Linked DNA regions of Homo sapiens: region 1 is reported to be linked to region 2. Evidence: microRNA targets listed by miRTarBase, many of them from high-throughput screens and not tested one by one. Region 2 holds a microRNA gene; the other region holds the end of a gene's coding sequence.
What was found. Region 2 holds the annotated microRNA hsa-miR-6790-3p (CGACCUCGGCGACCCCUCACU, at 1,806-1,826, opposite strand). A microRNA usually pairs through its seed, bases 2 to 8, with sites in the 3' UTR of a target mRNA and lowers its output. Matches are read on the target gene's strand: a 7mer-m8 pairs with bases 2 to 8, a 7mer-A1 pairs with bases 2 to 7 and ends in A, and an 8mer does both.

Region 1 (3,528 bases), not on the chromosome of region 2:
AGTGAAAACTTTACATTTTTGATTGACATTTTACATGTATGAACTGGGGGTACTGTACCCTAGAGAGTAGAAAGGCTCCAGTGAGCAATTATCTAGGTAGGGTGGGTATTTTAAATGATAGGACATTCTTTTTCATGAATATTAACCATTATCTTCTATTTAAAACATCTATTTGTTTTTTTATCAGCACTGAAGTTTTTTGATCTTCATGAAACTGGAATCTTTAAGAAACATTTGCTTCTGGATGCAGAAAGACACACTCAGATTCAATGGAAAAAACATAGCTATCCCTTCGTCACTTTCCAGCTCTACTCTCTGATAGATCATGATTATATCCCTCGGGAAATTGACCGGCTATCAGGTGACAAAAACACAGCCATCGTCATCACCTTTGGCCAGCACTTTAGACCATTTCCCATTGACATTTTTATTCGCAGGGCCATCGGTGTTCAAAAGGCTATTGAAAGACTGTTCCTAAGAAGCCCAGCCACTAAAGTGATTATTAAGACAGAAAACATCAGGGAGATGCACATAGAGACAGAGAGGTTTGGAGACTTCCATGGTTATATTCACTATCTTATCATGAAGGATATTTTCAAAGACCTCAACGTGGGCATCATTGATGCCTGGGACATGACCATTGCATATGGCACTGACACTATCCACCCACCTGATCATGTGATTGGAAATCAGATTAACATGTTCTTAAACTACATTTGCTAAGGGATAAATACTATACAAAATCACTAGGAACCAATCTCTGCACATAATCCCACATGTATTGTAAAGTAAGTTTTACTCATTTTAGGAACTAAGGAAAATAAATTTAAAAGAATCTGTTTGGGGAGGAAGGCTATGTAAGGACAATGACAACTGATAAGGGATGCAAAACCAAGAGAATCATTCATGAAGAATGACTATACCATGCCTGGTTCTGATGCTCGTTTAAAATATTAAAAAAGTTTTTTAAAAGCCATGTTATTAAGCTGATTTGAAAATATCTGTACAAATTCATGATGCTTTCTATTTCCAATATAGATATTTCCTAGCTCTGTCTATTGAAAAGGCCTAGGAGCAATGATAACCCATTAGCAATAATCACTCCGAGCACCCTAACTGTGATGTCTAAGAACCCTTCCTCAATAAAAGAAAAGAGGCATCCTTGAAGGGAAGGCTGATTCCAGGACTGGAACAGAAAATATGTATACCATGAGCCTGGACATCTTGTTATGCCAGAAAGCAAATAATCAAAGACAAATGGAATCATATCATGGAACAGAGGAGGTAACCCAAAGGAGTCTCTTCATTGGCCATAGATAGATTAGTTTTAGCATCAAAAAGACTAATGACTGCAGTTAATTGAAATACATAATATATAAAATCCATGAGGTCATAGCAATACAAAAAGAGACATGCAAGAATAAAAGCAAAATCTCTCATGTGTCGTAAGTGGAGTTGGGTAAACCCTTATTTTGAAAATTGGCAACAAAAGGGAAATATATGAACATTTATCCTCTTTCCTGTTAAAGAGAAAATCAATAACCCTAATAGATAAAGGAAATTTCTTCTTTTTGGAAGAATTACAGCTAATGAATACAGAAAGAACGACAGAATTAGGAAAGCACCATTTAAAAACTTCTACTCAAATAAGTAAATAAGGCAGAGATCATCAGTGAATGAACTTTTTTAAAAGGTTTGATTGGAACTTTACTATGGATATAGCAGGCTGTCACTTCTGAATCCACTGCTCAAACTTAGCTTTATTAATTTTAAAGCTTTGTAACAGCAGGACAACTGGTCATTATGTCCTACATGATTTGATGCAATGTAAAGTATACAACACCACCTATGAAGGAGCGAGATCTGTAAGAAAGATGCTCAATTTGGAAGTCATCATTATATATAGGTGCCTGCTAAAAATGAGGAGATGGTAATATTTTCACACACAAAGGGAACTCTCATACACTCTTGGTGGGAATGTAAGTTGGTACAGCCATTATGGAAAACAGTATGGCAGTTCCCCTAAAAACAGAACTACCATATGACCCAGCAATCCCTCTGCTGAGTATCCCAAAGGAAATGAAATCAGCACTTCATAGAGATATCTGCATTCTCATGCTCACTGCAGCATTATTCACAATAGCCAAGACAGAGAAACAACATAAGTGCCCATCAATAGATGAACAGATAAATAATTTGCAGTATATATGTACAATGGAATATCATTCAGCCTTACAAAAGGAGATGCTGCTATATTTGCAATAACATGGGTGAACCTGGAGGACGTTACGCTAAGTAAAATAACAATATTGAAGGAAAGAAATAATACTGAAAGAAAAATATTGCTTGATCTCACTTATATATGGAACTTAAAAACTACACATAGAAACAGGGTAGAATGGTAGTTATCCAGGCTGGGAGGAAGAGAAAACAGGGAGGTGTAGGTCAAAGGGTACAAACTTGCAGTTCTATTGGATGAATGTCTAGAGAGCTAATGTACAGCATGAGAACTATAGTTAATATTGTATATGGAAAATTTGCTGAGAGACTAGATTTTAGGTATTCTACCTCAATTAAAAAGGTAATTGTGGCCAGGCACGGTGGCTTACGCCTGTAATGCCAGCACTTTGGGAGGCCTAAGCGGGAGGATCACGAGGTCAGGAGATCGAGACCACAGTGAAACCCCGTCTTTACTAAAAATACAAAAAAAAATTAGCGGGCAAGCTCGCCGAGATGGCACCACTGCACTCCAGACTGGGCTACAGAGCGAGACTCTGTCTCAAAAAACAAACAAACAAACAAAAGGTAATTGTGCAGTGAGGAATATGTTAATATACTGACTACAGTAATCATTTCACTATGCATATGTATATCAAAACATCACACTGTATACCTTAAATGTATGCAATAAAAAATAAAAGATACATACACAAAATTCTTTAAATGTCCCACACACAAGACAAATACGTGTTCAAATACATCAGTCTCTGAAGCCTCTGCACCACTCTACACGCTGCTCCTTCTGACTAGAATGCCCTCCTGCCCCTCCTTCCACCTGTCAAACTCCCAATCACCCTTTAAAACCAGATTGAATTATTTTCTTCTGTGAAGCTTTCCCTGACACCCCGGGAAAGAATAATGTTTCCACAGTGTTTTGTCATTTACTCCATAAAAGAAACAAAAACATGTATTTTTAAAAGTATCTGTTATCTCTAATAGCTTGTAAACATCTTGAGGAAAGAGACTAAGTTTTGCTTCTTTTTCCCCCAAAGAGAACTTTATTAAAACATTTACCATCTCTTTAGAGAGAGGTTTTACCATCTCTTTAGAAAGCTCCAGAATCTACAACCAGGAATAAGTGTTAATGGGATAGAACCAATGAGAGAACAGCATATGATAGTGAAATGTACTTTATTATTAATACGAATTCAGTGGGCTCACAGAATGAACCTTTTTGCCAAACGGGGGGAAAGCATTTTCTGTAAAGTATCTTTAGAAAAATATGTATAATTTGAAAAATGGTTATCC
Region 2 (3,245 bases):
TGCTTCTACCTTGGTCTCCGTTTATTTGCCCTCAAACCCACAGTTTGTCTCCCCATAGCAGCCAGATCACACACACTACAACTTCCCAATTGAAGATGCTTTAATGGCTCCCAAAGTCCTTTCTAGAGCCTCTGATGGCAGGGGCTCTGGGAAAGCCCCCAGCCCAGTCCCCTCCCTTGCCCAGATAAACCATGGCCAAAAATGTCCAACAGTGGGCACAGCTTCTAAATGTTCTCCTTTAAGGAGAGGCCTCTGGTGGGCCTACCAAACCTAACTTACAGGGACACCCAGGAGCTAGGCCTGGGCCTTTGCCATTTCCGTTTTTTTTTTTTTTTTTTTTTTTTTTTTTTTGAGGCAGGGTCTTGCTCTGTTATCCAGGCTGGAGTGCAGTCGTACAATCATAGCTCACTGCAGCCTTGAACCCCTGGGCTCAAGCGATCCTCCTACCTCAGCCTCCTATGTAGGACTACAGACCCACGCTATCAGCCCCAACTAACTTTTTAATTTTTTTGTAGAGTTGGGGTCTTGCTATTGTATTGCCCAGGCTGGTCTCAAACTCCTGGCCTTAAGCAAGCTTCCTGCCTCAGCCTCCCAAAGTGCTGGGATTACAGGTGTGAACTACTGCACCCAACCCTTTGTCATCTATCTTTTCTTCACTTGGAGAAAAGTGAGAAAATTAAGACTTAGTGACTATGACAGTTAAGCAACTATCACAACCACCAAGGTCAGGGTCAAGTTCTCTCACCACCCCAGCCCCTGACCCCCAGGACTCAGAGACTTACCTGATTCCACGTAGCAAAGTTGACTTTGTCGGCTGCATTAAAAGCCATGATGTTATATTTTTTGGTTGTATTCCTGGAGTGGATGAGAAGAGGTAGTGTCAATCCAATACAGCAATTCAATCATTAATTTAATCAGTCAATGCTATTGAACCATTAATTCAATCAACCACCCAACTGGATCGTTAATTCAATCAAATCATTACTTTAATTCAATCACTCAATTCAATTGAACCATTAATTCAATTCAATCATTCCATTCAATTGAATCATTAATTCAATTCAATTCACTCAACAAACCCACCCAGCTTCATTCAGCCTGTTTTGCCTGGCAACACTGGATACGGAAGACTCCAAGGATTCCCAGTCTGCCAGAGAAGCTAGACCCATCCTCTCCTGACCCCAGGCAGAAGAAGAGCAGATGGAGGGACGAAGATTTGGGGGAACCCAAGATGTGGAGATTATTGTGAACTCAGCCTTGGGGAGGAGGGAGGACAGGCAGGGAGTATTTCCTGGAGGAGGAAGATACTGGAGTTGAGTTTTGCAGAATCATCAAGAATTCACCCAGCAGAGTCACAGTTTAGGGGTTGAGGGGAGGCACTCATGGCAGAGGAACAGGATGTACAAAGGCCTGGAAAGGAAAGACAGCCTGACCACTTTGAAACAGGACGAGGAATATGTCCTTACAGCTGGCCTGGGCATCATGGGACCATATACTCCTCGAAGGTTAGGCCAGGGGGCTGGATCACCGTGTATTAATGCACTCATTCATTCATTCGTTCAAAAAAGCAGTGTTGTCCCCAGAGAAGCCTCAGCTTAATCCCAGCCCTGCCCTCCAAGTCTCTCCCGGTCTGGAGGGAGAACCACAGACAGGGCCAGAAATGGCTGGCTAAGAAGATCGTGAAGGTTTTCATTTTTGGGGGGTGGAGAGGAGTGGGAGATGGGGCTGGGGACTTACTTAGGAACTCGAACGACGTATTCAGTGACATTCTGGCTGCTAGGGCCCTGCGGAAAGAGGAAGCGGTGAGTGAGGGGTCGCCGAGGTCGCCGTCGGAACCCCCGAACCCCGCCAAATCCACACTCACTAGGGCCGCCATGGGCAATGGTCAGTGGTTCCGATCTGGTCCGACCCGGGTTCCTTTCGTCTCCTCTGGCGTGCGCGTCCCTCGATCCCGGGGAAGCCGCCGCTCGGTGTCGGGTCTCTGTGCCTGAGCGAGGACCCCAACCCTAGGCGCCTCTGGCGCTGGGAAAAGGTAACCGGAAGAGGCGCTCAAGCTACTCGGTCTACGCTTCTGCGGCCGCCTAACCCGGAAGCGAAACCCTCGAGCAGCCGCGTCGCGATGGCAACCTTCTTAGCGACTGTGGCCACCTCAGTGCGCAGTCACTTATGCTCCTCGGCGGCTATGGTCACCTCAAAAGGTCCACCGCGGTCCCTTTTTAGACTCAGCAAACCTAGGCCGAGTCTGAGATAAACTAACGGGCCTCTGTCGCTGGCGCTCTTGTATATAACGCGGTTAACTTCATCAAATGGGGGACCGCCCTCTCTCGTGACGTCAGCACCCAAGGACCGTGGGGCATCCTGGGTGGGAAGAGGGAGACGAATCCCCCTTGCGGGCTCCCAGGCACTTTGCGCATGCGCCTTGCCGCTCTGGACCTGGGGGGCCCAGAAGGCCGCGTCACCATAGCAACCGAGGCCTACTCGGGTCGGGTCGAACCGCCGCTTGGCTCCCCATGGGTCTGTTTGGGGTTCATTTCCTCCCCCTACCCCGAAGGGGTGGACCCCGTCATTCCCGCAAAATGACCGGGGCGGGGACCCTTGTGACGTTGAGCCGAGCCAGGAGGGGTCAGAGCCTGGGCGGGGTCGGGGCGCGACCACCCCAAGAGCTGCTGGCCGGATGGGTCTTTGCAAGTCCAAGCTGCCCGAGATGGGCAGGGCTCTGAGGCCCCAGGAGAAGGGTAACGTCGCGGGGGCGGCTGGCTGGCTTCCTGGGGGGAAGGGAAGGAAGCTGCCGAGAACAGGAGGGAGATGCAGGATCCCCTACCCCGTTCCAGGCATGCACACATCCCCCGAATCATGGCAGTAACACAACTGCGCATGCTCACGGCGCAACCATTCATTGCTCCACTTCGCAAATACTCCAGCACCTCCTGGGTTCGGGGCCCCGCAAGGTGAATCTGTCAAACCAGCTCCCCACGGAGGATTACAGTGTCCTCTCGAGGGTTACAGTGTCGTGGAAGAGACAGAGTCACAGCATGGGAATCTACAACCCAGGAAGGAGCAGGAGAAGCACAGCGGGGCTCTGAGGGCTCAGAGAAGAGGGGAGGTTTCAGTTGGGCACTGAGGGATGCATAGGAGTTGGCTAAGCAAAGGGAAGGCGGGCAAGACACAAAAGTTGGGCCATGAACTACAGACACCGTCGATGTGTCTGTTTTCATTTATTTCTCATCCACCACTAAATGTCAGGA

Region 1: miRTarBase lists NXPE1 as a target of hsa-miR-6790-3p. Seed matches in the 3' UTR shown: 7mer-A1 at 1,387-1,393 and 8mer at 2,653-2,660.

Annotation. Positions count from the first base shown.
Region 1 is chr11:114,519,163-114,522,690 of GRCh38, reverse strand. NXPE1 (neurexophilin and PC-esterase domain family member 1) reads left to right here. Exons shown (of 9, transcript NM_001395504.1): 9 at 188-3,528. The coding sequence ends at 723. It also overlaps a transcript of NXPE2 not described here. Among named protein-coding and RNA genes, the nearest start is that of NXPE1, 39 kb to the left of the region's middle.
Region 2 is chr19:6,391,120-6,394,364 of GRCh38, forward strand. It overlaps MIR6790 (microRNA 6790), which reads right to left and starts at 1,864; the gene lies at 1,802-1,864. GTF2F1 (general transcription factor IIF subunit 1) reads right to left here and starts at 2,045. Exons shown (of 13, transcript NM_002096.3): 1 at 1,865-2,045; 2 at 1,738-1,784; 3 at 783-855. The coding sequence starts at 1,876. It also overlaps the pseudogene LOC390877.